Regions from separate parts of the Homo sapiens genome. Here regions 1 and 3 are each linked to region 2. Evidence: fine-mapped expression QTL. A gene starts in region 2. Each other region holds a variant in brackets. All regions are shown on one strand. Distances are between the middles of the regions.

Region 1 (11,139 bases), 72 kb before region 2:
TGCTCTTAAAAGCAACTATTAATTGCCAAGGCACTGGGGAAAATGCCTCTAAGGCATGTCAGAGGTCTTCACAGCATCTCCTCCCATCACAGGTCTGTAGGCCTAGGAGGAAAATATGGTTTCATGGGCCAGGCCCAGGGCCTTGCTGGTTTGTATAGTCTCAAGACTTGGTGCCCTGTGTCCCACCCATGCCTTAAGGGGACCAATGTACAGCTCAGGCTGTTGCTTCAGAGGGTGCAGACCCCAAGCCTTGGTGGCTTACACGTCATGTTGGCCCTGTGGGTACACAGAAATCAAGAACTTAGGTTTGGGAACCTCCTCCAAGATTTCAGAGGATGTATAGAAATGGCCGGATGTCCAGGCAGAGGTGTGTTGCACAGGAGGAACCCTCAGGGAGAAGCTCTGCTAGGACAGTGCAGAAGGGAAATGTGGGATGGGAGTCCCCACACCGAGTCCCCACTGGTGCACTGCCTAGTGAAGCTGTGAGAAGAGGGTCACCATTCTCCAGACCTCACAATGGTAGATTCACCAACAGCTTGCACCATGCATGCACCTGGAAAAGCTGCAGACACTCAATGCCAGCTCGTGAAACCATCCAGGAGTGGGGTTATAACCTGCAAAGCCACAAGGGTGGAGCTTCCCAAGGCTGTGGGACCCCACCTCTTACATCAGTGTGACCTGGATGTGAGACATGGAGTCAAAGGAGATCATTTTGGAGCTTTAAGATTTTACTGCCCAGATGGATTTTGGACTTGCATGGAGCCTGTTGCCCCTTTGGTTTGGCTAATTTCTTCCATTTGTAACAGGTCTATTTACCCAATACCTGTACCCTCATTGTATCCAGGAAGTAACTAACTTGTTTTGATTTTATAGGCTTTGGACTTGGACTTTGGAGTTAATGCTCAAATGAGTTAAGACTCTGGGGGACTGTTGGAAGGGCATAATTGTATTTTGAATTGTGAGGACATGAGATTTGGGAGGGGCAAGGGGTGTAATGATATAGTTTGCCTGTGTCTCCAACCAAATCTCATCTTGAATTGTAGCTTTCATAATCCCCAGGTGTCATAGGAGAGACCCAGTGGGAGGTAATTGAATCATGGGGTTGGGTTATCCTCTGCCATTCTATGTTAGTAAATAAGTCTCATGAGATCTATTGGTTTTATAAAAAGAAGTTCCTCTGCATATACTCTCTTGCCTGCTGCCTTGTAAGACTTGCCTTTCTCCTCCTTTGCCTTCCTCCATGACTGTGAGGCCTCCTTAGCCATGTGGAACTCTGAGTCCATTAAACCTCTTTTTCTTTATAAATTACCCAGTCTCAGGTGTTTCTTCATAGCAGTATGAAAATGGACTAATACATCCAAAGACAAATAATCAGAAATCATAAGGGTGTTTAGCAAGAGAGCTAGCTATAAGATCAATAGGCAAAAATCAATATATGTCCTCAGTAGGAAATATAATTTTAAAAGGTGACATTTTCATAGCAGCAATGAAAACTATATAAAACCTGAGAATAAATCTAATGAAATGTAGACAGTACCTATATGCAGAAAATTATAAAAATCTGCTAAAGAAATGTAAGAAAAAAAAAAGAACTTGGAGACAGACATGAGTTTTGGGATAAGAAGACTTAAAACTGTAAGGACATTAATGCTTGCCAAATCTAGAGTGGAGTCAAGTGGAACTTGACAAGCTAATAATAAAGTTTATGTGAAAGAGCAAAGGATCAAGAATAACCAAGACATTCTGAAACAAAAGAAGAAAATAAGTAAATTACCCTGCAGATATTTAGATATATTATTTTAAAACTACAAAGTAGGACACTGAGCAAGTCAGAGAAAGAAAACTTCACCAATGAAATGAAATTAAATATAAGATAGACCCAATATTTATGAAACATTCATATATGACAAATACGTATTGCAGGTCAGTAGAGAAAGGGACTCATCAGTAAATGGTAGTATGATTGTCATTATCCAGAAAGGAAAATATTTTTTAAAAATCTAGGTAGGTAAGAAATTCAATGTGAAAAACAGCATTAAGTTGAAAATATAGGAGAATATCTTTCTGACCTTTGGTTAAGGAAGGCTTTTTACATAAAATACAAAAATCACTAATCAAAAGAATATGATAAACTTAACTACATTAAAATTAAGAACATATGTTCAGCAAAAGATATGTCAGTGAAAGAAAGATTGTAAAAAACCAGCCATAAACCAAGGGAAAATATTTGTAACATACATTATTAACAAAGAGTTCAAATTAAGTATTTGTAAAGAATTCCCACAAATTAATAATAAAAACAAACAAATTAATAGATAAACTGACACAAATATATATTTCATGGATAAGGAATTGCTAGATATACAAGATGCTTCCTCTCATTTGCAATCAGAGAAATGAATATTAAGAATGAGAAACTTTATATCTGAGAGATAGGCAAAAATTAAGAAGTCTGACTACATCTAGTGTTGGAGTGAGTAATTTATATACATTGCTTTTGAAAGCATAAATGTGTACAACTGCATTGGTAAACTGTGTATCATTATTTTCCAAAGTTGAGCATTGTATATACCATAACTCAGAAATTCCACTCCTAGGTATATATCCTAGAAAAACTATTCAAATGACTGCAAGATATGTAAAATGTGTATACCAGTACTCTTTATATTATCAGAAAACTGAAAGTCACCCAGAGTCTAACAGGAAATAGATGAAAAATTGTGGTGCTGTCACATATTTGAATATTGTATGACAGTGAAAATGAAAAAAATTTCTACTGTGTGCAGTAACATATATAAACCGCAGAAGCCTATGTTCAATAAAAATCATCAAGACTCAGAAGACTACATACAATATAATGCTGAAAACAACCCAATAGTCCCATAGATAGTTGTTTGGGTAAACATAGAAATTGACTCTTATGGTCTTAAAGCTTGAACCTTACATCTGTTCGATCTGAGTTCCTTCCTCAGTAAATGACCTTCAAGCCTCTCAAAGTACCAAAGAACTGAAGCTCACCAGAGCACCACATCCAGACAATGAGATGCCAGATCCTTCATTCATTATGATTGCTTGCTTGCCCCTCCCTAGTTCTTGTTTCTTGCATATTGTTGCATTTGTTCCCTACTATATAAACCCATAGTTTTAGTCAGTCAGGCAGATGGATTTGAGACTGAGCTCCCATCTCGTCAGCGGCAGCATCCAATTAAAGCGTTCTTCCTTGTCAATAATTGGCATCTCAGTGAATGGCTTTCTGTGTGGCAAGCGACAGGACCTAAACCGAACCTCTGCTTTTTCAGTAACAATATTATGTGTGTAGAAATGTAAAACAAGCTCAACTAAATATACAGCTACTTTAGGCATACATGCATTTGTGATAACAATACTATTTAAAGAGGATGAAGAGGCTGGGCATGGTGGCCCATGTTTATAATCCCAGCACTTTGGGAGGCCAAGGCAGGAGGATTGCTTGAGGCCAAGAGTGGAGCCCAGCCTGGGCAACAGTGTGAGATCCTGTTTCTACATTTTGTTTTTTAATTAGCTGGTTGTGGTGGTGTGTGCCTATAGTCCCAGCTACTCCAGAGGCTGAGGCTGGAGGATCACTTGAGTCCAGGAGTTGGGGGTTAAAGTGAGCTATGGTCATGTTTCTGCAGTTTGGCTTGGGTGACAGAGCAAGACCCTGTCTGTAAAAAAAAAAAATAAGTCAAAAGGAAGAAGAAACAAAAAATTCACAGGGAATGTGGGGAAAGTGCAGAGACTGTGAAAGAGATCCACAATGTGTAGATACAATTTTAAAGCCCTCCTTGGTATTTTTCTAAATTAAGAAGTATTATCCAGTAAAAAATGCTTTTTAATCAAGCAATATTCTTTTATAATATATTCTTCTCGTGCACTCCAATGTCCTCTTCTCTCTCCTCTTCTGGCTACAGTTGCACCAGGAAGCTGAGGCAGAGACAAGGTGAACATAACTGTAAATGGTAAAAAAAAGAATAAAAAAAGAAATAAATACTTCAAAGAGAGTTAGCAAATAAACCATCCCACATTTGGTTGACTTTTGGTGAATTATCCTAGAACTAGGGAAGATCAAAAGCAGAGATTACAGTCTGGAGGCTATTGCAACGTTCCAGGTAAGAGATGATGGTGGCCTGGAGTAGAATAAAATGGTAAATGTGGAGGAAAATGAAAAGATTCAAGAGGCATTTTGTAATTGTTGTCATGTCTGTCCTTAGAGTCACAGCAGTTGCAGTAATAATGCTAGAAACATTTTAAGCATAGTGATCATCCAATCCAACTGACAGTGTCTCCGGTTGCCAACAAAGAGGTGAACGGGCACTAGCATCACTCCATCCCAGGGTAATTACATCATTTGGTCATCAGCTACTGTATTCATCTCCTCAAAGGTGTTGTGATCTCAAAGCTTATTCTATATGTTTTCTTTATTTCATTTAACTGACTTTGCTGACCCTTGATCCAGTTCTTATTTCTCCACTGAATTCTGAAACTCTTGAATCTTCTCCTTTGCAGTCAGCCAACTCTCTTAATCCTCTACTATTGTTCAGAATGTTCCCTTTATTTTAACAGCTTTATTAAGGTGTAATTGTTATGCACAAAAAGCTGCACATAATTAATATATAAAATTTGATAGGTTTTAACATGGGGTGTTTTTCCATTTATTTGGTTTTCTTTAATTTCTTTCAGCATTTTTTTGTAGTTTTCAATGTACAGGTCTTTCACTTCTTCATTTAAGTTTATGCCTAAGTATTTTATTATTCTTGATGCTATCATAAATAGAATTATAAACCAAAAGTAAAAATTTAAGCCCCCCAACTGACTGAATGGACCCTTTCTCTTGGCCAAGAAGATTCCAAAAAAAATCTGAAAAACTAGTTCAGGCCATGATGGGAAGGGGGTTCAGTTATGCCTCATTATACTCTCCTTCCTTTGGAATTCAGGCACAAATGACCAGCATTAACATTAAAACAGAGATCTTTACACTGACAACCTGATTATTTGTAGCAATATGATACCAAATTCAATCCGATCCTAGCAGAGCATCACATGACAAATAGCAGGCCCTAAAGGAAATTGAGTATTTAATCTCAAAATATACTTATTTGACATATGTTGAAGTGGCCTGGCAAAGCTCTCTCGTGGGGGAAATTTACATTTTGTAGAGAACTGCAGGTCTCTTTCTGAGCCGGAGGAGATTAGTTGAGAATCTACCACCCTTAAAAGGACTGAATTAGAAAATATTTGCCATCTATTGCCTCTAAGGGTGGCTGCCTTTGAGACTTCATCTACATAATAAGAACCTTCATCTCCACAACCACTCATCTTAACCCAGACACTCCTTTCTATTGATTCCAGGTCTTTAAATAATGACTCTTTCAACCAATTGCCAATCAGAAAATCTTTGAATCCGCCTATGACCTGGAAGTCCCTGTTTTGAGTTCTTCCACCTTTCTGAACCAAAAAAAATGTATATCCTACAGGTATTGATTGATGTCTTATGTCTCCATGAAACATATACAATTAACCTGTAACCCAACCACCTTGGGCACATGTTTTCAGGACCTCTTGAGACTATGTCTTGGGCCTTGTTCACTGATATTTGGCTCAGAATAAATCTCTTTAGATATTTTACACAGTTTGGCTTTTTCATCAATATAATCATTTTCTTCATTTCCTTTTCAGAGAGTTTAATGTTGTTATATAGAAATGCAAATAATTTTTGTATGTTGTTTTTATTTCCTGTAACTCTTATACATTTAACTTGAACACCATCCAAATTATTGGTGTATAACTGTTAATTGGAGTCTCTTGTGATCCTTTTTATTTTTATTTTTATTTATTTTATTTTATTTT[TA/T]TTTTTTTTAATTTTTTATTTTTTTATTTTTATTTTTTATTATTATTATACTTTAAGTTTTAGGGTACATGTGCACAATGTGCAGGTTAGTTACATATGTATACATGTGCCATGCTGGTGTGCTGCACCCATTAACTCGTCATTTAGCATTAGGTATATCTCCTAATGCTATCCCTACCCTCTCCCCCCACCCCACAACAGTCCCCAGAGTGTGATGTTCCCCTTCCTGTGTCCATGTGTTCTCATTTTTCAATTCCCATCTATGAGTGAGAATATGCGGTGTTTGGTTTTTTGTCCTTGCAATAGTTTACTGAGAATGATGATTTCTAATTTCATCCATGTCCCTACAAAGGACATGAACTCATCATTTTTTACGGCTGCATAGTATTCCATGGTGTATATGTGCCACATTTTCTTAATCCAGTCTATCATTGTTGGACATTTGGGTTGGTTCCAAGTCTTTGCTATTGTGAGTAGTGCCGCAATAAACATACGTGTGCATGTGTCTTTATAGCAGCATGATTTATAGTCCTTTGGGTATATACCCAGTAATGGGATGGCTGGGTCAAATGGTATTTCTAGTTCTAGATCCCTGAGGAATCGCCACACTGACTTCCACAATGGTTGAACTAGTTTACAGTCCCACCAACAGTGTAAAAGTGTTCCTATTTCTCCACATCCTCTCTAGCACCTGTTGTTTCCTGACTTTGTAATGATTGCCATTCTAACTGGTGTGAGATGGTATCTCATTGTGGTTTTGATTTGCATTTCTCTGATGGCCAGTGATGATGAGCATTTTTTCATGTGTCTTTTGGCTGCATAAATGTCTTATTTTGAGAAGTGTCTGTTCATGTCCTTCGCCCACTTTTTGATGGGGTTGTTTGTTTTTTTCTTGTAAATTTGTTTGAGTTCATTGTAGATTCTGGATATTAGCCCTTTGTCAGATGAGTAGGTTGCAAAAATTTTCTCCCATTTTGTAGGTTGCCTGTTCACTCTGATGGTAGTTTCTTTTGCTGTGCAGAAGCTCTTTAGTTTAATTAGATCACATTTGTCAATTTTGGCTTTTGTTGCCATTGCTTTTGGTGTTTTAAACATGAAGTCCTTGCCCATGCCTATGTCCTGAATGGTAATGACTAGGTTTTCTTCTAGGGTTTTTATGGTTTTAGGTCTAACGTTTAAGTCTTTAATCCATCTTGAATTAATTTTTGTGTAAGGTGTAAGGAAGGGATCCAGTTTCAGCTTTCTACATATGGCTAGCCAGTTTTCCCAGCACCATTTATTAAATAGGGAATCCTTTCCCCATTGCTTGTTTTTCTCAGGTTTGTCAAAGATCAGATAGTTGTAGATATGCGGCGTTATTTCTGAGGGCTCTGTTCTGTTCCATTGATCTATATCTCTGTTTTGGTACCAGTACCATGCTGTTTTGGTTACTGTAGCCTTGTAGTATAGTTTGAAGTCAGGTAGCGTGATGCCTCCAGCTTTGTTCTTTTGGCTTAGGATTGACTTGGTGATGCGGGCTCTTTTTTGGTTCCATATGAACTTTAAAGTAGTTTTTTCCAATTCTTTGAAGAAAGTCATTGGTAGCTTGATGGGGATGGCATTGAATCTATAAATTACCTTGGGCAGTATGGCCATTTTCGTGATGTTGATTCTTCCTACCCATGAGCATGGAATGTTCTTCCATTTGTTTGTATCCTCTTCTATTTCATTGAGCAGTGGTTTGTAGTTCTCCTTGAAGAGGTCCTTCATGTCCCTTGTAAGCTGGATTCCTAAGTATTTTATTCTCTTTGAAGCAATTGTGAATGGGAGTTCACTCATGATTTGGCTCTCTGTTTGTCTGTTATTGGTGTATAAGAATGCTTGTGATTTTTGTACATTGATTTTGTATCCTGAAACTTTGCTGAAGTTGCTTATCAGCTTAAGGAGATTTTGGGCTGAGACAATGGGGTTTTCTAGATATACAATCATGTCATCTGCAAACAGGGACAATTTGACTTCCTCTTTTCCTAATTGAATACCCTTTATTTCCTTCTCCTGCCTAATTGCCCTGGCCAGAACTTCCAACACTATGTTGAATAGGAGTGGTGAGAGAGGGCATCCCTGTCTTGTGCCAGTTTTGAAAGGGAATGCTTCCAGTTTTTGTCCATTCAGTATGATATTGGCTGTGGGTTTTTCATAGATAGCCCTTATTATTTCAAGATACGTCCCATCAATACCTAATTTATTGAGAGTTTTTAGCATGAAGTGTTGTTGAATTTTGTCAAAGGCCTTGTCTGCATCTATTGAGATAATCATGTGGTTTTTGTCTTTGGTTCTGTTTATATGCTGGATTACATTTATTGATTTGCATATATTGAACCAGCCTTGCATCCCAGGGATGAAGCCCACTTGATCATGGTGGATAAGCTTTTTGATGTGCTGCTGGATTCGGTTTGCCAGTATTTTATTAAGGATTTTTGCAACAATGTTCATCAAGGATATTGGTCTAAAATTCTCTTTTTTGGTTGTGTCTCTGCCCGGCTTTGGTATCAGGATGATGCTGGCCTCATAAAATGAGTTAGGGAGGATTCCCTCTTTTTCTATTGATTGGAATAGTTTCAGAAGGAATGGTACCAGTTCCTCCTTGTACCTCTCATAGAATTCGGCTGTGAATCCATCTGGTCCTGGACTCTTTTTCGTTGGTAAGCTATTGATTATTGCCACAATTTCAGATCCTGTTATTGGTCTATTCAGAGATTCAACTTCTTCCTCATTTAGTCTTGGGAGAGTGTATGTGTCGAGGAATTTATCCATTTCTTCTAGATTTTCTAGTTTATTTGCGTAGAGGTGTTTGTAGTATTCTCTGATGGTAGTTTGTATTTCTGTGGGATCGGTGGTGATATCCCCTTTATCATTTTTTATTGCGTCTATTTGATTCTTCTCTCTTTTTTTCTTTATTAGTCTTGCTAGCGGTCTATCAATTTTGTTGATCCTTTCAAAAAACCAGCTCCTGGATTCATTAATTTTTTGAAGGGTTTTTTTTGTCTCTATTTCCTTCGGTTCTGCCCTGATTTTAGTTATTTCTTGCCTTCTGCTAGCTTTTGAATGTGTTTGCTCTTGCTTTTCTAGTTCTTTTAATTGTGATGTTAGGGTGTCAATTTTGGATCTTTCCACTTAAAGTATATTTTGTTTTATATAAGTATAAGACATAGGTCCTGAAAACATGTGCCCAACGTGATTGGGTTACAGCTTAATTTTATGTGTTTCATGGAGACATAAGACATCAATCAATACATGTAGGGTATACATTGGTTTGGTTCAGAAAGGTGGAACAACTCAAAACAGGGACTTCCAGGTCATAGGTGGATTCAGAGGTTTTCTGATTGGCAATTGGTTGATGGAGTCATTATTTAAAGACCTGAAAACAATAGAAAGGAGTGTCTGAGTTAAGATGAATGGTTGTGCAGATGAAGGTTCTTATTATGTAGATGAAGTCTCAAAGGCAGCCACCCTTAGAGGCAATAGATAATCTCTTTTGTTAATCATTTATATGGAATATCTTTTTTCAACCTTCCCCTTTTAAGCCTATGTGTGTCGTTAAATCTAAAGTGTGTCTATTATAGACTGCATATAGTTGGGTCTTTTTTTTTTTTAATCCATTTGGCTTCAGTTACTATATCTTTCAACTACACAGCTGAATCTATTTACATTTAAAGTAATTATTAATACAGAAGGATTCACTATTGCCATTTTGTTAAATTTTTAAGTGTCCTGTAGTTCTTTCATTTTTCTTTTCTTCTCTTGCTGTCTTCTTTTGTGTTCCATTGGTGATTTTTTAGTGATAGCCTTTGATTCCTTTCCCTATTTTCCTCCCTCCCTTCGTTCCTTCCTTTCCTTCCTTTCTTTCTTTCCTTTTTTTTTTTTTTTTTCTTTTTTTTAGATAGAGTCACACTCTGTTGCCCAGGCTGGAGTGCAGTGACACCATCTCAGTCTCAGCTCACTGCAACCTCCGCCTCCCAGGTTCAAGTGATTCTCCTGCCCCAGCCTCCTGAGTAGCTAGGATTACAGGCTCATGTCACCCTACCTGGTTAATTATTTTGTTTATTTTCTATAGATATTTTCTTTGTGGTTACCATGAAGCTTACATAAAACATCTTATAGGTATAACAGTCTAAGCTCATCAGAAACATAACTATTAGGTTTGTGCAAATGTAATTGCAGTTTTTGCATTGTTGAAATTTGCCATTTGATATTGGAATACATTTTTAAGTAAATATGGTTATGTTATCCGTTGTTTTAATGTGCATTTCTTGCTTTTCTTTTTTGTTAATGAGTTATTACTTGCTGTTTATTTTATATTTAATTTAGACCATGGAAATGATGTTAGACAAAAAGCAAATTTGAGCAATTTTCTTATTCAAGTTCAAAATGGTCCGTAAAGCAGCAGAGACAACACGCAACATCAACAACACATTTGGCCCAGGAGCTGCTAAGAAATGTACAATGAAGTGGTGGTTCAAGAAGTTTTGCAAAGGACATGACAGCCTTGAAGATGAGAAGCATAGTGGCTGGCCACTGGAAGTTGCCAATGACCAACAGAAAGCAATCATCAAAGCTGATCCTCTTACAACTACACAAGAAGTTGCTGAAGAACTCAGTATCGACCACTCTATGGTTGTTCAGCATTTGAAGCAAATTGGAAAGGTGAAAAAGCTCAAGAAGTGGGTGCCTCATGAGCTGAACGAAAATGATAAAAATTGTCATATTGAAGTGTCATCTTCTCTTATTCTATGCAACAACAAGGCACCATTTCTTGGTTGGATTGTGATGTGCGATGAAAAGTGGATTTTATACAACCAGCAGTGATCAGCTCAGTGGTTGAATCAAGAAGAAGCTCCAAAGCACTTCTTAAAGCCAAACTTGCACCAAAAAAAGGTTATGGTCACTGGTTGCTGGTCTGCTGCTAGTCTGATGCACTACAGGTTTCTGAACCCTGTCAAAACCATTACATCTGAGAAATATGCTCAGCAAATCAATGAGATGCACCAAAAACTGCAATGCTTGCAGCCAGCGTTGGTCAACAGAAAGGGCCCAATTCTCCTCCATGACAATGCCTGACCACACATTGCATAGCCAACATTTCAAAAGTTGAAAGAATTGGGCTATGAAATTTTGCCCCATCCGCCATGTTCACCTGACTTCTTGTCAACCAACTACCACTTCTTCAAGCATCTCTAAAACATTTTGCAGGGAAAACATTTCCACAATGAGCATGATGCAGAAAATGGTTTCCA
Region 2 (11,139 bases):
AAATTGCAAAAATTGACTTTATATTTTCTAATTATCTTTTTTTAAAGGTCTTTTTAAATTTTTTTTCCTGGCTTTTAAAAGTAATCACAGAAAGAGTAGGAAGAGATTAAGGCTGCTAAACTCAGCCATACAAGGAGGAAGGAGAATCACATGTGCTGATCTTTCTCATACTACTAACTAAAAGTTTATGTAGTGCAATTAAGAGTTTTGAACCATTATTTTATAAGTAGAGTTAAACATCAGAGGTATATTCATAAATGAGTGGCACATGTCACATATTTAAATTCTTTCAGGATCTCAGAATGACAGAACCTGGGGCTTCTCCATCAAGTCCTGCTCCCTTATTTCACAATTGGAGAAACGTGTCCAATGAGACTAAATGGCCTGTCTAATTTACATAGCTTGTCATCCCCGAGGCTGGAACAGGAACTCCTATCATTTCATTACTTCAACATTTTTTATATCTACCTATCTAATCTTCTCTTAAATGAATGTAGCAAAATACAGTAGATATTCTGACTGCATTCATAAGGAAATTACTCTTTTGGCTTTTATTTCTTTTCTTTGTAATAGACGTATGCAATGCAATGACTTCCCCTCATCTCATGGTAGGATTTGAACTTCCCTGCCCTCAAGGGCCCAAAACCTGATTAGGGGTTGCTGTTGATTCTTGCCCTGGATTTCAAAAGCCTGAAAATTTGTTATAGAAGAAAAAAGTAATAGGTTCTAGAGTACAGAGACAAATATGAAGATTGCAGGAGGGATTCCTCAGACTCATATAAGCACTGAGTGGAAGTTGAATAAGAAGTGTTTCCAGAGGGTAACTTAGGAATTTGAGAACTGGCCATAAGAGGTGTCCAAATGGAAGAAGACCCATTTCCCAGAAAAGAGGAGACAAATGGCAATGCAAAGAACATTGTTCTGGTGTCCAAGCATAAACACTGACCCTGTAGCCTGCACCCAAGGGAGGAAAGTTCACTGTCCTCCTCTAGGGCCTACATACTGCTTTGGTGTGTATCATGTTGACTGTTAATAATCCAGCAGAGTAATCACTATCCATTCTCCAAGGCTGCGTTTGGTCTGTGTTTGAGGAGCTCATGTATTCCCCTACCCCTACTGCCAATGCCATCTCAGTCCATCTCACAATGCCCCACGTGACCCATCTGCTCTAAAAAGAGAATGAGACCATGCACATCTAGTAGTAAGGTAAAGTAGAGGAATGACCCATATCTGTATCTGGAAAGACTGGACTGAAAAAGATTAAGGTCCCCAGAACTGAGGCAATGATTATGTTAAAGTTTATAATCTCATTTATAAAAAGTATAGTTTTGCTGTTTTGTAAGAATTCAGGACCTTTAAGTTTGTTTCTAGTTTTTCTTTCATGAATGGACAGGGGGAATGCATAAAAGAAATCATTTTATTTATCTATGACAAAATGTTAAATTACCTAAAGCTGAAGCTGAAGCATTTTGTGCAATGTGTATATATTGTTTATATATATATGTGTGTGTGTGTGTGTGTGTGTGTGTGTGTGTGTGTTTCTCTCTCTCTGAATGATGCAACAGATGAAAACTAACCAATAGAGAGGATATGGTTTGATGCTTAAGAATGAGCCAAACAACAAACGGGAAACTGTGTACTGTCTGCGTGACAAATGCAACTTCATTTAACTGTTATCATTTGAAAATACCAAGTATACTAATCTTGTTCATTGTTTTTGTTTCTTTTTTGAGACAGAGTCTTGCTCTGTCACCCAGGCTGGAGTTCAGTGGTGAGATCTTGGCTCACTGCAACCTCTGCCTCGGGGTTCAATCAATTATTGTGTCTCAGCCACCGGAGTAGCTGGGATTACAGGCATGCGCCATGATGCTCGGCTAAGTTTTTTTGTATTTTTAGTACAGATGGGGTTTCGCCATGTTGGCCAGGCTGGTCTTAAACTCCTGGCCTGAAGTGAACCGCCTGCCTTGGCCTCCCAAAGTGCTGGGATTACAGTAAGCCACTGCACCCAGGCAAAATATACTAATCTTAATGGCTGAACTTTCAATTGCTTTTCTGTTTTGAAAACTAAGTGTGGCCTAAAGCATTTCTCAACACACTGAAGAACAGTAAACTAAACTCCGACTTTGCCATTTATATCGTTAGATCCTAATTGATATTGAAACCCTGCAAAACAGGAGAACTTTTTCTTTTTCTTTTATTTTGTTTACTTGCTTTTTTAAGTTTAGAACTGAAGTTACCAAAAGGAGGTGCATATAGATTGGCAGAAAGCAAATGAGTAGCAACAAAAAATAATTAGGAGCTATATAAAGAGTAAAAGAATGTATGAATAGGAATCTTCCAGTGATAATATTCCCCCACCTTCAATAGGGCAAAAGATCCACCACAAAAGCAAATAGTCATCTTGAAACTTAATTACATTTCAAAGTAGTACAGTAACATGAAAGGAACAAAACATTTTTGTTCAACAGTTTGCCTACCAGATGGGATCTCTAAATATAGGTAATCTAAAACCTTTGCTTGTCCTATAAACAAATACAGATGAAAGGAATAGCAACAATAGCTAAGCATTTAAATCACTGGAAATAAAATAGCACTTTGGTTAAGTGTGGAAGAATCTGGCTCATTCTAATAATGAATCTGGGAAGGCTGGAGTTCTCAGTGAAATTCAGAATACAGAAGGTTGCTTCTGGTATTTACCACCTGCTTATCTACCTGTTTAAACTGGTAGAATAGTTGGAAGAACAAATCAGGAACTAATAGCAGTAGACTTGGGAAAAACTAAAGAAGCACAGGAACACCTAATAAATAGAGACTCTAAAGGGCCACAATACAAATTCCAGACTTTTGTTTTTGAAATAAGAGTTGCGACATGCCCTTGCTTCATTTCTGTGCACTCATGTGTAAATGTGGGTAATAGTTAAGAACCTATGCTCTGGAGTCAAGCCCAGCATGTGAATCCAGGTTCTACAATTGACTGGCACTATGACTTTGAGCCAGGTTCCTTACCTCTTTGAGCCTCATTGACAAAAGCAGATAGTAATAGTACTGAGTTTTATTGGAATTAATTTATGACAGTTTTTGGCACCTACTGAATCCCATGAATATTAGTTGCTTATTATTATTAATAATCATTACTCTTAAATAATTATATTCTGATTTTTTGCTGTCTCAAAAGCGTGGGGTGGTGTACAGTAAGATTTTCAGGTAGTAAATGGAGTTCTAAGAGTAGAACTTAAAGCCTTCCCTGTATATCTCCAAGTGGTCTTTCCTAGTAGCACTGCCCTCTTCTCACCTGGCTAGGGAAGGTTATCTAGAACTCATACGGGGAAGGCAGGTCAAAAGACAGAGGTTTTTCTTTTAAGAATTGGCTATCAGAGCTCAGCCTACCCTAGTTTGTCCTCCTCAGGGACTTCACTTATACAACTCTCTGCTGCAGATCTATGGGCTTTGGAGAAATGACTCAGAATTTCTTTTTGATTTGGTTAACTAATGGCATGTAGGACCATTCTTGTTGATGGTATTGTTATTAATATAACACCATGATAGCTTAGAGCTGATTTTGGCAACTAATGTTGATAGTAAACAGTTTACTTACCTGTAAGTAGGGTGATTACCTGGAACAAATAAAAGGTAAGTTGTAATTGCTAAAATGTAATGCAGACTACAATGAATGGAAGGCCAGTGTTTAATGGTACTTAAGCTTTTACTGGGTTATTTTGTTGAATTTTACATGAGGCAAGAGCAACCTGCTGGGGCCACTGCCTTCAGTATTAAAAGATACCTATGTTTTGGACTTTATACAGGAAATAATTCCATTTCTTAGTATTTTTAAAATTATGGTAAAATACACATAAAATTTACTAGGTGTATAGTTCACTGGCAGTTATTAACACTGTTGTACAACCATCATCACTGTCCATTTTTAAAAATGTTTCACTATCTAAGCAGAAACTCTTGTACTCATTAAACAACAACCTCCCAACTCCCTCTTCCCTTAGTCCCTGGTAACCTCTAATTTCACTTTCTGTCCCTATGCATTTGCCAATTCTAGATATCTCATGTAAGTGGAATCATACAATTATTTGTCCTTTTGTGTCTGGCTTCACTCGGCATAATGTTTTCAAGGTTCATCCATGTTGTAGCATGTATCCGAATCACATTCTTTTTACAGGCTGAATAATATTCCATTCCAATATGTACATAGCACATTTGGTTTATCTCTCCATCTGTAGATGAACATTTGAGTTGTTTCCACTTTTTGGTACTTGTGAATAATGCTGCTACAGAACACTGAAGTACAAGTATTTGTTTGAGTCCCTGCTTTCATCTCTTTTGGGTATATACCTAGAAGTGGAACTGCTAGTACCTATGCTAAGTCAATGTTTAACTTGTTGAGGAGCCACCAAATTATTTCTATTGCCGCAACATCATTTTACATTCTGATCAGCTATGCACAAGGTTTCTAATTTCTACACATCTTTACTAATACTTATTTTCTGTTTTTTTGATAAGAGCCATTCTAATGGGTATATAAAGCAGAATCTCATTAAATTAGATTTGCTTTGTAAACTATTTATTAAAAATAAGAGACACGAAGAGAACTTATTATTATATGCTTCGCTTACCCTGTATATCAAGAGCTGCAAACATCCTGTGCGAGTCCCAAAGTGAAAGGTAAAATATGGTTCTATTAAATTTTAAACATAGTAACACGAATATTTCTCCAAATAAGGTAATCTTGAGTTTTGGGATTGCATTTAAAATTCCTACAGCAAATGCTCAGGATATAAACATATCCATTAGTCATTACAGAAGTCCACACGAGGCTGACACACGTAGAATACCATTATTAGCAAAACTAAACTCAGTACAGTTACAACTGCCTCAAACTTGACCCCAAAGTATTGAAAGCTCCTCAGAGAGCGGGCCAGCAGCGCTGCGCATGCGCGCTCCCGGGCGTGCTCCCGCGCGTGCCTGCGTATTTGCGTGCGCGGCCCCGCGCGGCAACGCAGGGGCGGAACCGCATGACTGGCAGTGGCATCAGCGATGGCGGCTGCGTCGGGGTCGGTTCTGCAGCGCTGTATCGTGTCGCCGGCAGGGAGGCATAGCGCCTCTCTGATCTTCCTGCATGGCTCAGGTGGATTTCAATTTTACGTCCTGGTTTTCTACAGCTCGGGAAACATCCTCCCCTCGGTTACCCCAGTATTGCCCAAGTGGAGGTGTCGCCGGGCCCAAATAGGGCCCAGTGGGTGGCTCCCCCGTCGCCAGCCCCGGCTGTAGATGCACGGGCAGCGCCACCTGCCCCCAGCCTCCCCCGTTAGTCTTCCTCTTTCTATCGGGCGGTCACTGGTCCACCACCCTCGCTTTGGGGCCTTGTGTCCCGCCGCTCAGCCAGCCCTCCATCCCCACAACACACCTCCCCATTCCTCGCCCCAAGTTTAAACAGAGCAAGTTAGTAAGGTAAGTCTTCTGCTAGAGGGAAATTATTTAGTGTTTTTCATTATCAGCTACTAGTGATTTTTCAGTCGTAATTGCCCATTGCTTTTTCCAGGCTCCCATACTAATGTAGACAATTGAGATTCACAGTTAACTTAGATACTGTTTACAGATTATCTCTTTTCTGTAAGCCACTGTGCCATGGCTGGAGTGCTTTCTCTCACTTTCCTTTTTGCTGCTTCTCTTTCCTTCCTTTCCCTTTCCCGCCTGTGTCATTAAACTTCCAAGATAGACTACAGGGGCAGGACCCCCAGGGACAGGCATCTTCCACTACCTGCCCTTAGTAACGTGTGCTTAATGCTGTATCGTTACTTAACACTCATCTGTAATCACTTTTGTCTGTCTTCCCCACTGGATTGTGAACTTCCCACTGGATTATGAGAGTAAGGGCCCTTGTGTCAACCTTTGCACCCCCAGTGCTTGGCCCAGGGTAAGCTCTCAGGAAATGTTTTTTAAAGAAATGAGATGCAGCCGGTGTCCTCAGGGGGCCTACCTAAAGTTAAAAACAAAAACAATCCAATTAGTTTGAGTCAGCAGTGCATGGAAGATCACAAGACGGTGCATGGTTTCCTGCCAAGTGAATTGTAAGAGAAAAAAATGTGGTTAGGCATTATTAAGGCATTTGGAAGATGAAAAGCTTGTCAGACTTTTCGAAGAAAGTGGTCTTTGAGCCGAGACGGGTAGGCTTAAATGGGACGGTGATTGGAAGGGAATTGGAAAGGTACTGGGCAGAGACCTGGAAAAGGGCAATTGTGGGAGGTATTCTCTTTATTTTGAAAATGAGGCCAGACAGGTTCAGCAGCTTGGCCAAGGTCTCTTAGCTGTTACTGTGAGTAGTGGCGGATTTGGGATTAGAACCCAAAGCTCTCCGACCTCAAACTCAGGGCTTTGGTGGGGTAAGGTGAAAAAGTTTGAACTAGGATATATTGTTTTGGAGATAGGGAAGAAGAGGTCCAATAGTGTTTAAAGGGAAAGACGGCATATATTTAGAAGGTGACGTGTGTAAGATGACAGCGGTACTTAATAACTAGGAGACTGGTAGTACTATTTAGGGCTCCAAGAGTGTTCATTTATAAGTACCCAGAAATTCCCCAACACTGTACCCTTTCTCATAATCAATTCTCATTATCTTTAGGAAGAACTCCTAGACTATGTTCTTTTTTCCCCTGGACCTCTTTGCTTAAAATAATTATCCTTTTTTTGAATTTCAGATTACATTTTTATAACCTGTAAGGGTATGTCTCTAAAATTCAGAGTCATGTATGTATGTATTTTTTCCTTTGTACTTTGAACCAAGAATTTATTCAAAGAATTCTGCCAAGTATGCGAGTATAATGTGATTCCTATATATTTAAATCTCCACTGAAGTAAATAAAACCTTATTGGGAGTAGGTCTTTATCATCTTTATCGTTGGGAGTAGGTCTTTATCATCCAGTAGGTCTTTAGCAGCTAGTGATTTTACATTCAACTTTAATGTATGTGGTTATGTTATAGGAGATGTTTGGTTTCTGCTTAACTAGAATATGGGCAAACCAATTCTGTTTTATCACACTCAGTTTTGCCATACTGTTAACCAGTTTTAACACTTTTACTATGGAATAAAGTACTAGCTTTTTAAAAAGTGGACATTGGGAATGGATAGATGTTGTTTTGCAGCTGCATTCTTACTCTTCGAGGCTGAAAAAATGTTGTTAAAGACAGATTTTGTGTTTTCAAATAAAAAACCTTAAAAGCTTGAGATTTTCTTCTAGGAGATAGCAGCCATAGAAGAACATATGGGAGTGTAAATTATATGTAGCCAACTTAATTTGAGCCTTTTCTATTAATAAAGTACTAAAGACGGACCTTCTTTTAAGATGATAAAAATAAATGATAGGTTAATGAGTTTTGTTCAGTCTCTCAGATCAGATTAATTCACTCTTATTTGCTCCCATAGGACACTGGTTCTTCTTTCAGTGGTAGTCATCATACTTGTAATTATGTAATGTAATGTCTGTATTCCACACTAAGCTAGTAGGTCCACAAAGCCCAAACCATGTGTCTTGTTTATGGCTTTCTTCTTGTGTGGTAAGGCTCAGCAAGTTGACTGAGTAGCTTCTTGGTAAAGTCACCAGTAAGCTCAGGCTCTATGTCGCTCAATGTAATGGACATTTTCAGTCGTCCTCTTACGTGAACTGTCATCTGCATTCAGCTTTCTTCTCAAAAAACTCTCCTGGTTCTTTTTCTGTCTTGATTTGCTCCTTCTGGTTTCTTTTGCAGACTCATCCTCCTCTACCTGGCCATTAATGATGGGGTTTCTCTAAATTTGGTCCAAGGTCTTTTCACTCTACATTTTTCTCCCTAGGCTAATCACAGAAGTCTCCTAGAGATACCCATTTGTGTCACTGGTGTATAGGTAAAAATAGAACCTTTGAATTTCTGTGGAGATTCATAGATTCTATTTTTGAGCTCTAGACAAGTTCATCTAACTGCCTGATAGACATTCATTCATGAATCCATTCATTCAAGAAATATATCACAGCCTCCATGTGTAAGGCACTGTTCTGTGCTCTGATCATACAGCAATGAAAAAAACAAATCACTGCTCTCATGGAGCTTATGTTCTAATGAAGTAAATAAATACTATAGTAGAAGGTAGTAAGTTTTATGGAAACAAGGAAAGCAGGATAAGGGGATTCTTCCATGGATGAGAAGTTGGAACAGTGTTACAATTTTAAATAAAGTAGTCAGGTTATGCCTCACTGCAAAGATGACAGAAGATGAAACTTCACAGCTAGACTTAGACTTGGCTTTAAAGCCAAGTCGGAGGCTCCAGGGTAGGGTCCTTGACATGTTCAAGGAACAGCAGTAAGGCTAGTGTGTCTGGAGTGAGAAGAATAGGAAGGGATATCCAAGAGGGTACTGGCATCCAGGTAGTGTAGGGCAGGGGTTGGCAAACTTTCTGCAAAAAGTCAGGTAAGCATTTTAGCTTTTGTGGGCCATGTAAGGTCTCTTCCCCATAGTTTTCCCTTCTCTCTCTTTTTGAGAAAGGAGTCTTTAATAATGTAAAACTCATTCTTAGCTTATCCTCCTTAAGGACCCTAGGCTGGATTTTGTCCTCCCCTCTAGCTGTCCATAGTTGCTCAATCAACCCATGGTATAAGACCTTGTATGCATTACAAAGAGGCACCTCACACTCAACCTGTGTATGCCTGTTGCTTATGTTTCCTGTCTAGGCAGGTGTCTAGTATTGTTCACCCAGTTACTCCGGCCAAAAGCCTGTTAGTCATCCATGAGACCTTTTACTGTTGACCCTTTATAACAAATCCGTTGCCAATCTCTATTAATTTTACCACCTAAATTTCTCTAGTATCTGTTTCTATCTACATCATCGCTGTAGTCTAAGCATGAACAGTAGTTTCCTAACTGATCTCTGTACATCTACTTTTGCTCTCTTTCAATTCTGTCTTGACACAGCTTCCAGATTGATCCTTTAGAATCATGCCAACCTTTCTGTCAGAAATATTCATGACTTCTTCATGAACAGATTTGTCACGTTCCTACAGTTTCTCTGGTCTCATTTTATAGACACTGCTCTTTTCATTCTCTGCTTTTCAGTTCTTACATGTCATACTGCTCCCTCTTATCCAGAATCCTGGCACCTGCCCTTTCCTCGCCCTGGGATACTTTTTTCTTCTGCCCTGCACTTCTCACCATCCTGTAGACTTTAGTTCAAACCATTCAGCAACTATATTTGGATACCCAGTTTTTGTCAGTCCTGTTCTAGGCACTATGTGAACAAATAACTCAGATAAAATACATCATAAACTTCCTCTTGCAGAGTTTATAGGCTAGTGCATTTATTGTTGAACTCCATAAACCCAGTCAGTTGTGAATAAAATAAATATTTGCAACACCAAGTGTCTCATTTTTGAAGCAGGTACATTTGCCTTTCACATTTATTTGTGTGATTTTTTGACTAATTTCTGTTTTTCACAATATGCTACACACTCCATGAGAATAGGGACTCTATTCCTCCCTCACCCCACCATCATTGCCTCTCTAGCAGTGAACACAGTGCTTGACACATTAACAGGGATTCAATAGGCAGTTTTTGAACTGATACCTTAATGAGTTAATTGATTAAAAAATTAAAGTTGTGACCTTAATTTCCTCCTCAGGACTCCATAAGATGGACTTATATTTCCTTCCATTTTTTTCTGTAAATACATATACATTAATATTTATATGGCTTTTTATTACTTACCAGCTTTGGAGTAGATAATTCTTCTTTTAGGTCATGTAAACATGTTGTCAAAATTAAATTATGATTTTTTCAAGTTAAAATAAAATTACACTGAACACACATTTTGGACTTTTTTTAACCAAGAAAATTAGGTTCTTCTAACTACAGAAGTTTAACAGTCACTTTAGGAATTTATTACTATTAAGAATATGATAAGAAATGACTATTAAAAGTCACATATAAATACAGAAATAAAATTTTTTTTAGAAAAATCAATTTATTTATTTATTCCTGTACTACCCACTAAACAAATTAGGTAACTTAAAACTTAAGCTTAAACAAGATCTTCAGAGTAATCAATGGTGAAGCCAGGAGTAAAATAATCAAAATTATTGCTAGTTATTGAGACCTAGTTAGTTAATTCATATTAGTAAGTCAGTTTCTATATGGTTATTATGATGTATGGAGCTTTTTTAAATCCTTTATTCCATCCTCTGTGTGACATAAAAGTTTTAGACTGCTTTGAAATGCATTGTATTACTAAAATATTTATTTTAATCTAGATTTTTTGATTCATCAGGTGATTCTGGACAAGGATTAAGAATGTGGATCAAGCAGGTTTTAAATCAAGATTTAACATTCCAACACATAAAAATTATTTATCCAACAGCTCCTCCCAGGTATGCAGTAATTTATCTCACTTGTCAATATAACTCTGTGGCATAAAATATATATAGAGAGATGTGCCAGCTAGGTGTTCTTTAAGCTTAATTTTGTATTTAACATACTTTAAATTAGAGTACTTTGTCCCCAGAATGTATTCTTTATTGCAGTTACACTGTTGGACCAAGTTTTGCCAGGTGAGTAATTTATTCCCTTTCTGTAAAGCATTCCCTAAAGCTCTGAATTTAAACTGTGTCCCAAGCATGGCTTATGTAACTCTGCTTCCTCTTGCCCTGCAGATTGCTCAACTTTCATACTTCTTCCCTACATTCACCCCAAAAGGAAACTTAATAACTCCAACAAGTATAATCTTTCTAATAATTTAGTTAAGCCAGAATTCATAATCTCTGGGAAAGGGTTTTATGGCATTCTTTCCACATTTAAAAGGATTATCAAGAAACAATGTTATGCTTTTTTAATCAGTAAACCAGAATAGGAAGATAGAATTGACTACTTAATAAATATTTAGGTTATATAACCTGTAGGTGTGTGCAAAAAATTCACAGTAATAAAACTGCTATAGTTTTGAGGTCAAACTACTCTTTGTAAATATTAAATTAACATCTGCATAGTCTTTTATTCGGAACACATGCCGTAAATCAGGGATTGGGATTTTTTTTTGGTTAAGTGAAATGATGTGTGGAGCTACGCCCCAATCTGATTTTTCTCATAATCTGTTCTTGATTTTTTTTTG
Region 3 (11,139 bases), 39 kb before region 2:
TGTGGCTAAATGAACACTTAAAATATACCTAGTGCAACTAAACAACTGAAGTTTTAATTTTATTTCATTATAATAAATTTAAATTTCAGTAACCACATGTGGCTAAGACCTACTATATTAAATAAGCATAACTTTGCAATTAAGTATGGAATTGATGCAAGAATAAGCAGACCAGTTAAGTAGAATATTAGGTCTAAAACTAGATTCTCTCTCACACACACACACCTATAAAAAATTCATTCACACTATAAACAAAATCTTCCCATGTGCCAGATATGCTGGAAGTAATTAGGACAGAAAAGTGGATAAGAACTAATAAATTCACAATCCATGATGAACAATGATGGAAAATAACGGAGGGTGTTATAAGTGCTCACGAGAAGTCACTGATTCCTCCCTGCTGCTCTATATACTTTACCCAGACTCACCAATTTCAACATATACACACACACACACACACGTACATATACATATGTACACATACACATACATATGTACATGTATATGTGTGTGTGTGTATATATATACATGCTATGTAAAAGATGTTATCAATGGGACAAAGAAGACCTCCTTAATAAATGGTGCTGGAACAACTAGGTAATCATTTAGTAAAAGATAAAACTAGATGTATTCCTTGCACCATTACCAAGAATAAACTACAAATGTTACCAGCAATCTAAATGTAATAAATGAAATCATGCAAGTACTAAAAGGAAACACGAGTGAATTCTTCCTTATTAACCTTGATATAGAGCCAAACTTTATAACTATGCTCCCCAAATCTAGATGCAATAAAAGGAAAGATTGATAAATTTAACTATATAAAAAAAAATTAAAAAGCTTTTGAATGGCAAAACAAATTGAACAAACAAAAAATTACCATAAGTAAACTCAAAGATAAATGGAAAACAGAAAAAAATTACTGCAACAAATATGAAAGAAAAATGCTAATATTCCTAATATGTAAAAAGCTTTGAAAATTGAGAAAAAAGATTTTAAAATCCTGTTGAAAATGAGCAAAAGCATAAAGATATAGTTAACCAAGTGGTCCCTACATGTAAAGCTTATTCTACTCACAGAAGTAGAAATGTACACTAAAGCTCGCTGAGATAACTTTTCTTATCCATCATATTGGCAAAACCTCAAAAGCATATAAATACACTACTGGCAAGATTCTTTCATATGTTGCTGAAAGGAAGGCAAAATGGCCTAACTCTTATGGAAGGGCAGATTTGGCAATATTTAACAAAACTGTGTATGTATTTATCTTTTCATGCAGCCATTCCACTTCCTGGGATTTACCCTGAACAATATGAAAATACATGCAAGGGGTTATTCATTACCTCATTATTTGTAATTGCAAAATATTGGAAACTACCTAAATATCCAGGCATAGGAGATTGGTTAAATATACTATGTTACATGCACACAATACAATAGTATAGTATTATGTAGCTATAAAAGAAAATGAAGAAGAATTCACTGAAGCAGTAGGGAGTTACTTCCATAATATATCAAAGGAAAATAGCAAAGCATAAAAGTATATATTGTATCAATTGTACATTTTCTGAATTTGACCATTTGAGTGTGGTTATGTGAGAAATGTTCTTTGAAAATAATACACAGATTATTAAAGAGTAAAGGGAAATAATATATGCAATCTATTCACAAGTAGTTCAGGAAATGTAGGGAGAAAAAGCAAGCAAGAAAAACAAATGTAACAAAATGTTGAAATTGGTGAATTTGGGTAAAGTATATAAAGAGCAGCAGACAGGAATCAGTGACTTCTCTTGAGTACTTATACAACACTCTGTTATTTTCCATCATTTTTCACCATGAATTGTGAGTTTATTAATCTTTTTTTTTTTTTTGAGATAAGGTCTTGCTCTATCACCCAGGCTGGAGTGCAGTGGAGCATTCTCAGCTCACTGCAACCTCCTCCTCTGGGTTCAAGTGATTCTCGTGCCTCAGCCTCCCGAGTAGCTGTGATTACAGGTGCACACCACCACACCTGGCTAATTTTTGTATTCTTAGCAGAGACGGAGTTTCACATGTGGGCCAGGCTGGTCTCTAACTCCTGGCCTCAAGTGATCTACCTGCCTTGGCCTCTCAAACTGTTGGGAAACAGGCGTGGGCCACTGTGCCTAGCTGAGTTTATTAATTCTTATTCACTTTTGTCCTCATTACTTCCAGCAGGATCTGGCACATGGGTAGATTTCAAGTATAGTGTGAATGAATTAATTAATGAATTTTTTAAAGAACGAGAAAAGTGATTGTATGAATTGGTTTCTCCAGGAAATGTATCTTAGAGGAGGTAAATCTTAAATGCGTTTTTAAAATTTCTAAAACTGTGTCAGGGTGGAACAGAGGGTGAATATGAGCAGAGGGAACAACTTAAATAAGGCACAGAAACAGCTGTGAGTGCAATAGGGCTGGAGACAGTCAGGATCATTATGACAGAAACAGAGGCTTTAGAATGAAATTACTGGGAAATAAGTTTGGATAGCTGATGAAGAGAATCAGACTGTAGAGACACTTCAAATCGAGGCAGGAAGTTTGGGGAGGCACTAGAAACTCCCACTGGGCTCTTAGGAAACAAACATCCAGATAGCCACCATACATGGTTCCTCCTGATGACCTATTTGCACAGAAAAAAACAGGCCAATGATGAGGATTTTCGTCATTTCCCTGTCTTGTGTTGGTCACTGATTTTTGTCAGTGAGGCAGGCTTCCCAATGCCCAGTTATTCCTTTTGAATTTTGAGATAGGAATCTAGACAGATGGCACCTTAGTTTGACCTTGCCGTTATATAACCACAAGAAAAAGTTACTGTAGTTTTTTTTTTTTTTTTTTAAAATCTGTTACACTAACTGCATTATTTCATGCTCTGGAAGTTTTACTTTGGTGAAAAAATATGAAAAAAAAAGATTACCTTAAATAAGTTTTAACTTTAAGGTACAGAAAATGAAGAATGTCAGCTCCCATGATTAACTATCCTAGGCATGGCTTATGCTCTATGAGGTGCCAAAACTTGATGTGAATAACATTAAATGCTTCAAGATGTGCAAGCACATATATTCTCAAATGGGCAGAAGTGATTATTGTGAACATAGGCAAACTTTAGTTGAAGGATATGCATAATTGCTTTATTACACAGGGTGTACCAGGTCTACATGTATTTATTCATTAATTTTGTATTTTTTTCTGAAATGATCAGCATTAATTCCTAGTAACTGCATTTCTATAAGACATTCATAATATAAGAATATAACTATAATATACAGACAATAATCAGATTGAATTTAACACTAAATGACATAGAGCAGAATGAAGAATTTTTTAGAACTTAGCAAAATGCTACCCTTTCTTCTGGCTGGCCCAGGCAGGGAAGAAAGAAGGTGACTGGAATTCAGAAAATAAAATGACAATTTCTTTTTTCATTAGATGCCTATTTGTTAGCAAAAGAAGTACTTATTTTAAGCATTATTCAAAAAACACATCCTCAAAATATTAATAAACATCTCTTTAAAAATTCCTATATATACAGTTGTCTTCATGCCAATGCATTTGCAAATTAGTTTAATTATATAGGCACTCATTAACACATATTTATTATAAATCAAGAAGCTGCCAAATACTGCTTTGTGACCTGGGGATATAAACAGGGAGAAAAAAAGGCAAAGACAAAAATCTCTGTCCTCAGGGCTTATATTCTCGTAGGGAGAGATAGACATTGAACATCATAACTAAGTCTAAAATACAGTGTGCTGAAGGTGACAAAGAGTATCAAAAAAAGTTAAGCAGGTGAGGATAGGAAGTGTTGAGTGGGTAGTGTAACCACCAAATGTGTAAGTCTTGCCTGCTGCCCAGATATAGCCTATTTATCAAGATAGGAATTGCACAGAGAAAGAGTTTAATACACATACAGTCTGCTAAACAGGAGACTGGAGTTTTATTATGACTCAAATCAGCTGACCCAACAATCGAGTGGTTAGGGTTTTTCAAGAACAATTTGGCGGGTAAGAGGATAGGGAATGGGTGCTGCTGGTTGGTTGGAGATGCAATCATAGGGGTGTGGAAAAGAGTCATTGTGCACTGAGTCCCCTTGTGGGTGGGGGCCACAGAGGAGTCACTAGTCTGGATGGAACCATCTGGTTGTCAAAAAGGCAGAAGCCTGAAAAAACATCTTAAAAGGCCAATTTTAGGTTCTACAATAGTGATGTTATTTATAGGAGTAATTGAAGAAGTTGCGAATCTTGTGACCTCTGGAATAACAGCTGGTAATTATTTAACTACATCTACATCTTAGCAGAATTCAGGCCCCTCTCATCCTCCTAACCTGGTGGCCTTTCATTAGTTTTACAAAGGCAGTTTAGTTTGAGGAGGGGCTATTATTATTTAAACTATAAATTTCTCCCAAAGTTACTTGGGCCCATGCCTAGGAATGACAAAGGGCAGTTTGAAGATTAAAAGTAAGATGGAGTTGGTTAGGTTAGATCACTTTCACCATCGTAATTTCCTCACTGTTGTAATTTTTGCAAAACTGATTTCAGTAGCAATTTTAATTAAGGTTTTTGGGAAAGTCTAACTAAAAAGATATTTGAGGAAAGAGCTGAAAGATGTGAAAGAGTGAGCCATGTGGAAGAGTGGACAGGAATACAGCAAGCTCCAAGTAGCTCCTGGTGTGTCAAAGGAGCACCTAGGAGGGTAGTGTGGCTGGAACACTTACTAGGGACTTAGAAACAGGAGGCATGTCTCAGAAGGCCACAAAACGACATGGTGGATCCTCATGTCATTATCCCCTAGACCCAGGACTTACTTACCACAGAAAATCTGTCTAAGGACAGGCAGCATTTATGGTAAGTATACGTTTATGATAATATCAAAGTTGTTTTGACCTAAGGACAGGATTTGCAGTAAGCATGTGAAAGTAGAAATCTAAGAGGCATTCTCAGAATTGCAGTTCATCAGAAGTCAACATGGCAGATTAGCATCCAGGATGGAGGTACTTCAACCTCCACAAACTCCATGTAAGATGAACTCAAAGTGACCCACACCAGGACATATAATGAAGCTTTAGAAAGACAAATGCAAAGAGAGAATTTTGAAAGCACCAAAAGAAAAGCAATTCATCACATAGAAGGGAACCTCAATAACATTATTGGGTTTCTCATAAGAAAATTTGGAGGCCAGGAGCCATCAGGCTGATATATTCAAAGTAGTAAAAGAAAAAAAAAATCTGTCAACCAAGAATCCTGTATTTTGCAACACTATCCTTCAAAAATAAAGGACTAGTTTTAAAATATCCAGATAAACACAGACCTGCCCTGCAAATGTTTAAGGGAAATGTTCAAGGGAGTCCTACAGGGTGAAATAAAAAGACACTAGACAGGATCAGGCACAGTGGCTCACACCTGTCATCCCAACACTTTGGGAAGCCAAGGCAGGCAGATTATGAGGTCAAGAGATCGAGACCATCCTGGCCAACATGGTGAAACCCCATCTCTACTAAAAATACAAAAATTATCTGGGCATGGTGCCATGCACCTATAGTCCCAGCTACTCGGGAGAATTACTTGAA[C/G]CCAGGAGGCGGAGGTTGCAGTGAGCCGAGATCGCACCACTGTACTCCACCCTGGTGACAAAGCAAGACTCCATCTCAAAAAAATAAAAAAATTAAAAAAAAAGACACTAGACAGTAATGCAAAGCCATATGAAGAAATAAAGATCTCAATAAAGGTAAATATACAGGCAATAATAAAAGCTGGTATAATATTATTGTAATGATGGTTTGCAACTCTACTTTTATTTAAGAGACATTTTAAAAAGTATTTCTCTATAACCCAATATTTTGTAACTTTGATGTGTAACCCCACATTTTGTTTTCTACATAATTTAAGAGACTAATGTATTTAGAAAAATTCCTATTTCATATTTTTCAGCACACAATTTATAATGATGTAATTTCATGACATCAACAATTGAATGGGGTAAGAATTGAGCTATTAAAGAAGTAGAGTTTTTGTATATTATTGAAGTCAACTGGTATAAATTCAAATCAGAGTGTTACATCATTAGGATGTTAAATATAACATCCCTGGCAATTACAAAGAAAATAGCTATAGAATATATACAAAAGGAAACGAGAAAGAAGTTTAAACAAAAAGTCAACTAAATACAGAAGAAGGCAGCAATGCATGAAATGGGTGACACAAAAGCTACAAAAGTTACATAGAAAACAAATAGCAAAATTCAGAAGTAAATTCTTTCTCATCAATAATTACTTTAAATATAAATTGATTAGATTTTTCAATCAAAGGGAGATTGGCAAAATGGATTAAAAAAGAGCATGCACAATCTAACTATATGCTGTCTACAAGAGACTCACTTTAGATCCAAAGACACACAAAAATTGAAATTGAAAGGATGGAAAAAGACATTTCATGCAAATAGTACATAGAGCAAGTATGGCTACTCTAATACCAGACAAAATAGATTTTAAGTCAAAAAGATCACAAGAGACAAAAAGGTTATAATACAATGATAAAGGAGTCAAATTATCAAGACGATATAACAGTTTATATAATAACATAAACATTTATGCACTTAATGACAGGCCATCAAAATATATTAAGGAAAATGTGAAATAATTGAAGGGAAAAATAGACAGTTCTTCAATAATAATTGAACACTTCAATACGTCACTTTCAATAATGAATAGAACAACCAGACAAAAGTAAGAAAACAGAGAACTTAACACAATACACCAACACATCTAACAGCCATATATATATTTTTCTCAAGTGCACTTGGGATATTTTCCAGGATATACCATATATTAGTCCACAAATTAAGTCTCAGTAAATTTTAAAAGATAGATATCATACAAAGTATCTTCTGTGACAACACTGGGATAAAGTTAGAAATGAGTAACAGAGTAAAACTGGAAAATTCATAACTTTGTGGAAATAAAACAACATGCTCTTAAACAACAATCGGATCAAAAAATGAAGAAAATATTTGGAGATGAATGAAAATGAAAATATACCAAAAATTATGGGATGCAGCAAAAACAGTGCTAAAGAGGAAACATATAGCTATAACTGGTTACATTAAAAAACAAGAAAGGTCTCAAATCATCAATCTAACTTTACAATTGAAGGAACTAGAAAAAAAAACAAACTAAACACAAAACTACCAGATGGAAGGCAAAAAATAAAAATTAGAGCAGAGATAAAGGAAATAGAGAATAGAAACACAATAGAGAAAATTATAAGCCCCCCAATATTAGTTTCTTTGGAAAGATTAACAAAAATGACAAAACTTTAGTTGGCTGAACTAAGAAAAAGAGAAGCTACTCAAATGAAAATGAAAACATGACTACCAATTCTACACAAACAAGAAGGTTACAAGAGAGTATACCATGGACAATAGTATGCCAACAAATTGGATCAGTAGATGAAATTGACAAATTCCTAAAAACATAAAATCTACCAAGACTAAATTATTAAGAAATTTAAAATCCGTTTGGACCTATAACTAGTAGGGAAACTGAATTAGTAATCAAATATCTCCCAACAAAGCGAAGCTCTGAACCTAATGGATTCACTGGTGAACTCTAACAAACATTTACAGAAGAATTAATACCAATTGTTCTTACCTTTTTCCAAAAAAGAAAAAGAAAAAGAAAAAAAGAGGAGGAGAGAAAACATCTTAATTTATTTTCTGAGGCCAGCTTTACCAGCTTTACTCTGATACTAAAGCCAGATAAAGATACTACAAGGAAAGAAAATTACAAGCCAATATTTCTTGTGAACATTGATACTAGCACACTTAATTCAGTGACATATTAGAAGAATTATATACAATAACCAAGTGAGGTTTAATCTGGGAATGCAAGAATGATTCAAATACAAAATCAATCAATGTAATATACCACATTAACAGAATGAACAAAAAGCACATCGTTATCCCAATTGATGCAGAATACCTTTTTACAATAAAAATACTCAACAAACTAGGAATAGAAAGAAACGACCTGACCATAATAAAAGTCATACATAAAAAGCAAACAGCAAACATTGTATTCAATGATGAAAGACTTACAGCTGTTCTTCTAAGATCAGAAAAAAAGACAAGGATGCCCGCTCTCACTACTTCTATTCAACATAGTACTAAAAGATTTAACTAGAGCAATTAGTGAAGACAAGAGAACAAAAGACATCCAACTTGGAAAGAAAGAAGTAAAATTATTATCTCTGTTTGCATATTATATGATCTTATATGTAGAAAATCCTAAAGATTCCATAAGAAATCTATTAGAGCTAGTAAATGAATTCAGCAAAGTAGCAGGATACAATATCAACACACAAAAATTGGTTGCATTTCTATACACCAATAATGAACAATCTGAAAGGAAATAACATTTAAAATTCCATTATAATAGCACTGAAAAGTCAATTTCTAAGTACTTTAGAAACTAAAGATGAAAGACTTGTACAATAAAAACTACACAACATTGCTGAAAGAAATTAAAGATGTAAGTAAATAAAAACACATTCCATATTCATGGATCAAAAGACTTAGTATTATTAAAATGCCAATACTACCCAAAGTGATTTATTGATTCAATGTAATCCCTGTCAACATTCCAATAATATTTTTTGCATAAATAGAAAAATCCATTTTGAAACTTATATGAAATCTCAAGAGATCCTAAATAGACAAAACAATCTTGAAAAAGAAAAACAGAGTTAAAGGATTCACACTTTTTGATTTCAACACTTACTACAAAGCTACAGTAATCAAAACAGTGTGGTACTGGCATAAGGACAGACATGTAATTGAATGGAATAAAGAGCACAGAAATAAACCTTCACATATATGGCCAAATGATTTTTGACAAGGGTGGCAAGAACTTTTAATGGGAAAAGGACAGTCTCTTCAACAAATAGTTATGAGAAAACTGGGTAAACACATGCCAAAGAAGGAAGCTGGGCCCTTATCTAATACCACATACAAAAATTAACCCAAAATGGATCAAAATTCTAAGTGTAAGACTCAAAACTATAAAACTTTTAGAGGAAAACCTAGGGCAAAATCTTTACAACAATGAATTAGGCAATGACTTCTTGGATATGACACCAAAGTTACAGTCAACAAAAGAAAAAATGGACAAATTGGATTTCATGAAAATTTTTAAAATTTGTGCAACAAAAGACAATATCAACAAAGTAAAAAGGCAACCCACAGAATGGAAGAAAATATTTATGATCAAATATCTTATAAAAAATTAATGTTTGGAATGTATAGAGAATTCCTAAAACTCAACAGCAAAAAAAAACAACGACAACAACAAAAAAAAACTTGATTGAAAAATGAGTAAAGGACTTGAATAGACATTTCTTCAAAAAGATGTACAAATGGCCAATAAGCATATGAAAAAATCCTCAACATCAGTAATCATTAAGGAAATGCAAATCAAAACCACAACAAGATTACACTTTACACCCATTAGGTTGGTATGATGGTTAACTGTATGTGTCAACTTGACTGGACTATGAGATGCTCAAGTAGCTGGTAAAACATTACTTCTGGATACGTCATTAAGGATGTTTTTGGAAGTAATTATTAATAGTATTTGACTGAGTAAAGAAGATCCATCGTTATCATTGTAAGCAGGCATCATCCAATCAATTGAGGGCCCAAATAGAACAAAAAGGTAGTCAAATGGGTAAATTTTCTCTCTCTCCTTGAGTTGGCACATCCTTCTTTTCCTGCTCTCACACACAGAAACTCCTGATTCTGGGAACTTCAGACTCTGAAGCTTATACCTTTGGATTCAGACTAAATTACACCACTTGCTTTCCTGGTCCTCCAGCTTTCAGATGGCATATTGTGGCACTTCTCAGCCTCCATAATCACATGAGCCAATTTCTATGACAAATCTCCAAATTTCTGTCTCTCTCTCTCTCTCATTGGTTGTTTCTCTGGAAAATCCTTACTAATACAGACAGCTACTATTTACAAAAACAGAGAATAACAAGTGTGGAAAACAGTATGGCATTTCCTAAAACAATTTAAAATAGAATTATTGTATGCTCTAGCAATTCCACTTCTAGGTATATATCCAAAAAACTGAAAGCAGGGTCTTGAAGTGGTATTTATGTATCCATGTTCATATGAGCATTATCGACAATAGCTAAAACGTGTAAGCAACGCAAGTGTTTATCATGAATGAAAGGATAAGCAAAATGTGGTAATACGAATACAATGAAATACTATTCAGCCTATAAAAAGAAAGGAAATTCTGACATATGCTAAAACATAGATGAACCCTGAGGACATTATGCTAGGTGAAATAAGCCAGTTACAAAAGACCAGTACTGTGTGAACCCACTTATATGAGATACTGACAGTAGTCAAAATCATAGAGACAAAAAATATAATAGTCATTGCCAGAGGCTAAAGAAAGGCAGAAATGGGAAGCTTTGGCTTAATAGGTATAGAGTTTCAGTTTTACAAGATGAAAAGAGTTATGGAGATGGATGGTGGTAATGGTTGCAAATTATTAGGAATGTATTTAATACCACTACACTGTACACTTAAAATGGTTATGATAGTAACTATTATATGTGTATTTTACTACAATAAAAAAAATTGAAAAAAAAGGGCCACTTTGAAGTTTTTCCTAGGAGATGTGTGAGAACAGTGCTTGTTAGTCTTCTGAATATTTGCACTGCTTTTGAATGTCAGCACCCTGGTCTTGACCCCAGGCACTGAATGCCCCTAGCAGTTGGACATAAATAGGTCCACAAGAACTCTTACAAAATTAGAGAATGAATAAAAAGGAAAATTAAAAAGAGAAACAAAGAAAAAAAAACAGAGAAAAGGAATATATGGAGGATACAGCAAAGAAGGAAGGGATTGTGGGAGAAAAAGAAAAGCATGGAAAATATTTTAAGTGTCACAGCAATTGCCACAGCTGCTGTTCTGTGATGCTCTTAGTCTCAGCAGCAAAAGCTTGATCAAGGGCATGCAAGAATACGGCTGTTCAAGGAAAACAGATTTCTGACTACACTGATTTGATTAGCTTGGTGATCTAGGGAACAGACCATATGGGTATATTTCAGATATAATCAC

Which allele goes with the higher level. Alleles are on the strand shown, and positions count from the first base shown. SD is a standard deviation of normalised expression in the study named. Not every link is listed here.
For the expression in monocytes after LPS of the gene that starts at base 5,034 in region 2, TA is the high allele of the variant in region 1 and T is the other (large effect, 0.79 SD a copy in Kim-Hellmuth 2017).

The links. PIP is the estimated chance that this variant, and not a neighbour inherited with it, causes the effect. A credible set is the group of variants that fine-mapping cannot tell apart.
Region 1: its variant is the best candidate, but not a certain one, in a credible set for the expression of LYPLAL1 in monocytes after LPS (Kim-Hellmuth 2017, PIP 0.67).
Region 3: its variant is the best candidate, but not a certain one, in a credible set for the expression of LYPLAL1 in whole blood (TOPMed, PIP 0.79).

Annotation. Positions count from the first base shown.
Region 1 is chr1:219,096,787-219,107,925 of GRCh38, forward strand. All of the region lies in intron 3 of LYPLAL1-DT (LYPLAL1 divergent transcript), which reads right to left. Among named protein-coding and RNA genes, the nearest start is that of LYPLAL1-DT, 71 kb to the right of the region's middle. The variant TA/T (reference allele first, on the strand shown) is at 5,866.
Region 2 is chr1:219,168,845-219,179,983 of GRCh38, forward strand. LYPLAL1 (lysophospholipase like 1) reads left to right here and starts at 5,034. Exons shown (of 5, transcript NM_138794.5): 1 at 5,034-5,137; 2 at 10,303-10,402. The coding sequence starts at 5,047. It overlaps LYPLAL1-DT (LYPLAL1 divergent transcript), which reads right to left and starts at 4,944. Exons shown (of 5, transcript NR_038845.1): 1 at 4,626-4,944. RefSeq lists enhancers at 4,865-4,914, 4,995-5,324, 8,719-9,008.
Region 3 is chr1:219,129,413-219,140,551 of GRCh38, forward strand. The region is part of intron 3 of LYPLAL1-DT (LYPLAL1 divergent transcript); the gene reads right to left. Among named protein-coding and RNA genes, the nearest start is that of LYPLAL1-DT, 39 kb to the right of the region's middle. The variant C/G (reference allele first, on the strand shown) is at 5,582.